Regions from separate parts of the Homo sapiens genome. Here region 2 is linked to region 1. Evidence: fine-mapped expression QTL. A gene starts in region 1. The other region holds a variant in brackets. All regions are shown on one strand. Distances are from middle to middle. Region 1 holds the start of PIK3AP1 (phosphoinositide-3-kinase adaptor protein 1). Region 2 has its middle 28 kb from the start of PIK3AP1.

Evidence for each region.
Region 2: its variant is fine-mapped to the expression of PIK3AP1 in whole blood (INTERVAL, PIP 0.98).

What each region holds. Positions count from the first base shown.
Region 1 is chr10:96,719,014-96,721,917 of GRCh38, reverse strand. It overlaps PIK3AP1 (phosphoinositide-3-kinase adaptor protein 1), which reads left to right and starts at 1,404. Exons shown (of 17, transcript NM_152309.3): 1 at 1,404-1,536. The coding sequence starts at 1,524. RefSeq lists enhancers at 813-922, 1,773-1,882 and silencers at 1,043-1,342, 1,393-1,642.
Region 2 is chr10:96,747,122-96,750,025 of GRCh38, reverse strand. No RefSeq gene overlaps it. Among named protein-coding and RNA genes, the nearest start is that of PIK3AP1, 28 kb to the right of the region's middle. The variant T/G (reference allele first, on the strand shown) is at 1,746.

The DNA of each region.
Region 1 (2,904 bases):
CGCCTCGGCCTCCCAAAGTGCTGGGATTACAGGCGTGAGCCACCGCGCCCGGCCACTAGGATCCTTAAAACTGGAAGAGGGAGACAGAAGAGAGTCAGAGAAAGGGATATGATGACAGAAGCAGGGCCATCTGGCTTTGAAGATAGAACAAGGAGGCCATGAGCCAAGGAATGTGGATGGCTTCTAGAAGCTGAAAGAGCCAAGGAAATTGATTCCCTTCTATTTGGCAGAAAGAAACCCAGCCCAGCCACCACCTTGATTTTAGCCGATGGAGACTCATGTCACACTTCTGAGCTACAGAACTGTAAAATGATAAGTTGGTGTTGTTTTAAGCCACTAAATTTGTAGTAATTTATTATGGCAACAGAAGAAAATGAATGCACGGCCTCATCCTGATATTCCCGTTCTTAAATCCATTTCATTTTATTTCCACCTGGACTTCAGCCCTAACCTTGCCTCATCTCTGCTCTCTGGGTCCATCTTCTGGCCCCTGGATTGTTGAGAACTCCAAGGGGATGTGCTATTCAGTTGAATTTCGGCAGCAGGCAAAGGGAGGAGTCCAAGAAGAGGGCAGGTGAAGGCAAGGGTTAAGCAAGAGTTCTAGCTCTGGAAGCAGACTGGCTTGGTACTGAACCTCCGGGAGCTTTTGTTCTCTGTGGAAGCCTGAGCAAGGTATTTGGCTTGTTTCTTTGGCTCCAATGTAAAGACAGTGATAGGTGCTACCTCAGAAGGTTGCTGTGAGGATGCAATGCGATAATGTGTGTAAGGTGCTAAACGCAGCGCCCAGCAGACAGGAACACAGGAAATGAATGGCAGAGAAACTCTATTAGACATTTATCATGTGACATTATAATTAATGTTCATGTGCCATCAGGAGACCAGATCCAAGGAACGGCAGAAAGATCACAGGAGGGCACTCAAGGGCAACGCCGAGCACCCAGGGCCAGGTGCCCAGCCCTCCTCCTCTTCCCCTTCCTGTCCCCTCCCCTTTCCTGCTGGGGCAGCAGGGGCTTAGGGACAAAGCCCCAGGCGATGAGGAGGTGGCTTGGACAGCTGGTGCTCACACACACACACACCCCCGCCCTGTCTCCCAGAGGCCTGGCAGCCCCACACTCTCCCCCTCCGCCTCCTCCCCACACCCCCTCCACCTCGGGCTGCCCTTTGGTGGCAGATCAGGGCTGGTTTCCCGAGGAGTGGGGCGCACGTGGCGCGAAGCCCCCGCCTTCTCGCTGCCCCTGAGCAGGGGGCCGTGGGGGGAGCTGGCCGGCGGCCGGCATGGGGTTCTCACTTCCCCTCCCCAACGGCCGCGGGTGCAGGTGCCGCGGGCCGAGTCCCGCAGGCGGGGCGGACTCTGTGGACACGCCCTCGTGGCGAGGCCGGGCTGCCCTGAGGGAGGAAGCGCCAGAGCGGCGGCCGGTCCCGCGCGGAGCCCGGCGCCCCTCCAGCCCGAGCCAGGACGCCGCCGGCCCCGGTCCCGGCCCCGGGCACGCAGCGAGCCAGGGATGTGAGCGGCGCCCCGCGGCATGGCAGCCTCAGGTGGGTAGGCAGGCGCCGCGGGTCCCCGGGCTCCCGGCCCCTCTCTCGTACCCCGCATCCCTTGAGGCGCGCTCCCCCGCTTGCTTCTGTTTGCGTCCTCTGTGCGGGGATCTTGCCCTCTTTCTGCTCTTTTCTATGTTCCCTGTCGCAAACTTCCCACTCCAACTTTCCCACGTTTCCCGTCCCAGCCTGTGGCGCGATTCTCTTCAGCCCCTGCCTGGCCCGACCCCCTCCCACTTCTTCAGGGTCTCCTTCGCTCCCTCCACCTCTGGCCCTAGGAGTGTCTGAGCGTCGCTTCCCCTGTCCCTCCGACTCTGAAGCGAGAGGCGAGTTGAGAGAAGCGGAGGGCGGGCGATGTGGATGGTCTACAGGGCCAAACGCGTCTCCTGGGCTCCGTGGACCCACAGGGGGCGCTCAGGCAGTCCTAGGTGGTGCGGAGAGATCAGCCGGGGAGGCCCTTGGGACAGTTCCCCAAGCCCCGTTCCTCCACCCCTCCCAGGCTTTGTGTTTTGGGTCTAGAACTTTGCTAGGGATCTAGGAACACTATTCCTTGAACTTTACTTTTCCTGCGTCCTTTGCAGAACTTTGGGGAATGGGGAGAGTTGGCGGTCACTGGGTAAATGTACTCATCAAAGGGTGCCAAGCGTCTTTTCTGGCTGGTCTTGGGTTGCCTTCTGGTTCATGGGTGTACACACTTGGCAAGTCGCTCACTGACGGAGATCCAGGACAAGCCACATAATGATGATAACGGAGACAATTAATGAGTCCTTACTATTGCACTCCAATGGATACTGTGCACCTAATATGTTCTCCATGGTGGGCAGGAAACACCTAGTCTCTGCTCTCCAGGAGTTTATGGTCCTGTAGAGGAAAGCAATAAGTAAACAAGGAATTACTAGATGAGAGGAGGTAGAGTTACAGTGTTTACAAATGGGTTTACTTGTATTTTCCCAGCCCACTTTATGATGTTTTAGTAGGGATAACCTGTGAAAACAGGTTGCAGGTGCCCCTTGAAAAAGAAAATCTAGGTGGCCAGGAGAAGGCACTGTTCTTACAGGAGGTGAGCAAACACTGGAATGAAGAGCCAGCTCTCCCCAGATCCTCTGAGGGTCTGGTAAGGGTGCTTCGGAAGCAGAGGTAGAAAAGGCCAGGAGTGATTGTTCCATGTACTACAGGCTCATTAAAGGGGATGGGAAGGTAGTTAATCACAGCCTCCTGGCTCTCCAGCTGGGCTCTGGAGGCTAAAAGAAGCTGTGTTGTGAATAAGGAGGCCTAGTAATAGCAGGTAATATACACTTAATAAGGAAAATCTCTGGTATGACATGTGTTATGGGAAAACGATAAAGAAGGGTGAGGGAGACTGGGGTT
Region 2 (2,904 bases), 28 kb before region 1:
CAAGAGATTCTCCTGCCTCGGCCTCCCAAATAGCTGGGATTATAGGTGCCTGCAACCACGTCCGGCTACTTTTTGTATTTTTAGTAGAGACCAGGTCCATGTTGGCCAGGCAGGTCTCGAACTCCTGACCTCAAGCTATTCGCCCGCCTCGGCCTCCCAAAGTGCTGGGATTATAGGGATGAGCTGCTGCACCTGGCCTCATCCATGTTTTGTGTACATCAATAGTGCATCCTTTTTATTACTGATTAGTTAGTATTCCATTGTAAGAATGTTTTTATTTTTAATTTTTATTTTATTTATTTATTTATTGAGACAGAGGCTCACTCTATTACATAGGTGGAGTGCAGTGACACAATCTTGGCTTACTGCAGCTTCTGCCTCCCAGGTTCAAGCAATTCTCATGCCTCAGCCTCCCGAGTAGCTGGGATTACAGGTGCACACCACCAAGCCTGCTAATTTTCAGTAGAGACGGGGTTTTGCCATGTTGGCCAGGCTGGTCTTGAACTCCTGATCTCAAGTGATCCGCCCGCCTTGGCCTCCCAAAGTGTTGGGATTACAGGCGTGAGCCACTGCACCCAGCCTGTTGTAAGAATATATCAGTTTTTTAATCTGATGAACATTTGGGTTGTTTCCAGCCTGAGCTATTATGAATAAGGCTGCTGTGAACATTCATGTATAAGTCATTGTGTGAATACAGGTTTTCATTTATCTAGGAGTGGACTGGCTGGCTCGTGTGTTGTTTATTTAACTTTATAAGAAACTTACCAAACTAATTTTCAAAATGGTTGTACCATTTTGCATCTCTACCTGTAGTGTGGATTAAGGCCTAACTTCTGCTTTCACAAAGGTCATCATCCCCAGAATAGAGCCCGGTCCACCTCTCCCAATCTTTTCTTTCTTTGTTTTCTTCTCTTTGCCTTTCTTTTTTTCTTTCTTTTCTTTTTTTTTTTTTTTTTCTGAGATAGCATCTTGCTCTGTCACCCAGGCTGCAGTGCAGTGGTATGATCAGAGTTCACTGCAGCCTGAACCTCCCAGGTGCAAGTCATCTTCCTGCCTCCACCTCTCAAGTAGCTGGGACCACAGGTGAATGCCACCATGCCCAGCTTATATTTATTTATTTATTTGAGACAGAGTCTCTCTCTGTCACCTAGGCTGGAGTGCAGTGGTATGATCTCAGCTCACTGCAACCTCTGCCTCCCGGGTTCAAGTGATTGTCATGCCTCTGCCTTCTAAGTAGCTGAGATTACAAGTGTGCGCCACCACGCCCAGCTAATTTTTGTATTTTTAGTAGAGACGGGTTTTCATCATATTGGTCAGTCTGGTCTTGAACTCCTGACCTCAAATGATCTGCCCGCATTGGCCTCCCAAAGTGCGGGAATTACAGGTGGGAGCCACTGCGCCTGGCTCCAGCTAATTTATTTTTATTTTCTGTAAAGACAGAGTCTTGCTATGTTTTCCAGGCGAATCTTTGCTTTTCTATGAATGAGTGGGTGCCTAAGTTTGAGAGAAGGAAGTGGGGGTGAGGGGTGGGGTTGTCCATAGAGTATGCTGAGTTTTACGGCAGCCCCGTCTGTGGGCATTTCCTGGGCAGGGCAGTGGCATCTGACCCTTTCAGACCATGGGGCAACAGCTCCAAATTCTCACCTTGGTGGTTGATTCATCAAGTACTGAACAAAGGAAAATACTAAAAGATTATTGAAAGGGGAAGTGGCTAGAATGGGCCCATTGTCACGTGTGTGAATGAC[T/G]CTTTGTGCTTGTCTTTTACCAGATGGGAATCCTTATCTGCTTTCTGTTTTCGATATTTGTCAGAGAAATGTGTCTAGGGCTTCATCCTTTCCCTTCCCATAACCTTTTACCTCAGGTTGCAGCCAAAGAGGAAGCAGAAGTTCTGCTGTCAAAAGGGGAAGAAGAAAAGGTAATGGTGACTCTCCCCAGACAATAAAAACTCACATAAAACTGGTTTAAAAGTAACACAGCCTAGTGAAGCCAGACTCACCGACAGAGCCTGGGTCTTCAGCAGTTAGACAAGTTGGCCAGGAGCACACCAGGGCAGTTGGGAGCAGGGAGAGCAGACAGCCCTTTACTGCCATCCCCTTCAAAGATGCCCAAGGACATGCCCAGCCCAGGCTGGTCCACTGACAGCAGTGGGGATGGAAAGGCCCATGGCTTTCTGAGGGTTCATTTACCTCCCAGGCTGTCTGAGCATCTGGACTTTTCCCTCTGTCCTTCCTTCCACAGGCAGCGCTTCCAGGAGCACTCCCTGGTAAGCATGCATCGCACACACATAATTGCTTTTTTTTGTTTGAGAGAGGGTCTCACTTGGTTGCCTGCGCTGGAGTGCAGTGGTGTGATCACGGCTCACTGCAGCCTCGACCTCCTGGGCTCAAGCAATCCTTCCACCTCAGCCTCCCGAATAGCTAGGACTACAGGTATGTACCACCATACCCAGCTAATTTTTCTATTTTTTTTTTTTAAAGATGGAATTTCGCTCTTGTTGCCCAGGCTGGAGTGCAGTGGTCCAATCTCCGCTCACTGCAACCTCTGCCTCCCAGGTTCAACCAATTCTGCCTCAGCCTCCTGAGTAGCTGGGATTACAGGCATCCACCACCACATCCAGCTAATTTTTGTATTTTTGTATTTTTTTAAGTAGAGATGGGGTTTCATCATGTTGGCCAGGCTGGTCTCGAACTTCTGACCTCAGGTGATCCACCTGCCTTGGCCTCCCAAAGTGCAGGGATTACAGGTGTGAGCCACTGCACCAGGCCAATTTTTGTATTTTTTGTGGAGATGGGGTTTTGCCATGTTGCCCAGGCTGGTCTCGAACTTCTGGGCTTAAGTGATCTGCCCGCCTTGGCCTCCCAAAGTGCTGGGATTACAGGTGTGAGCCACCATGTCCAGCCGTGC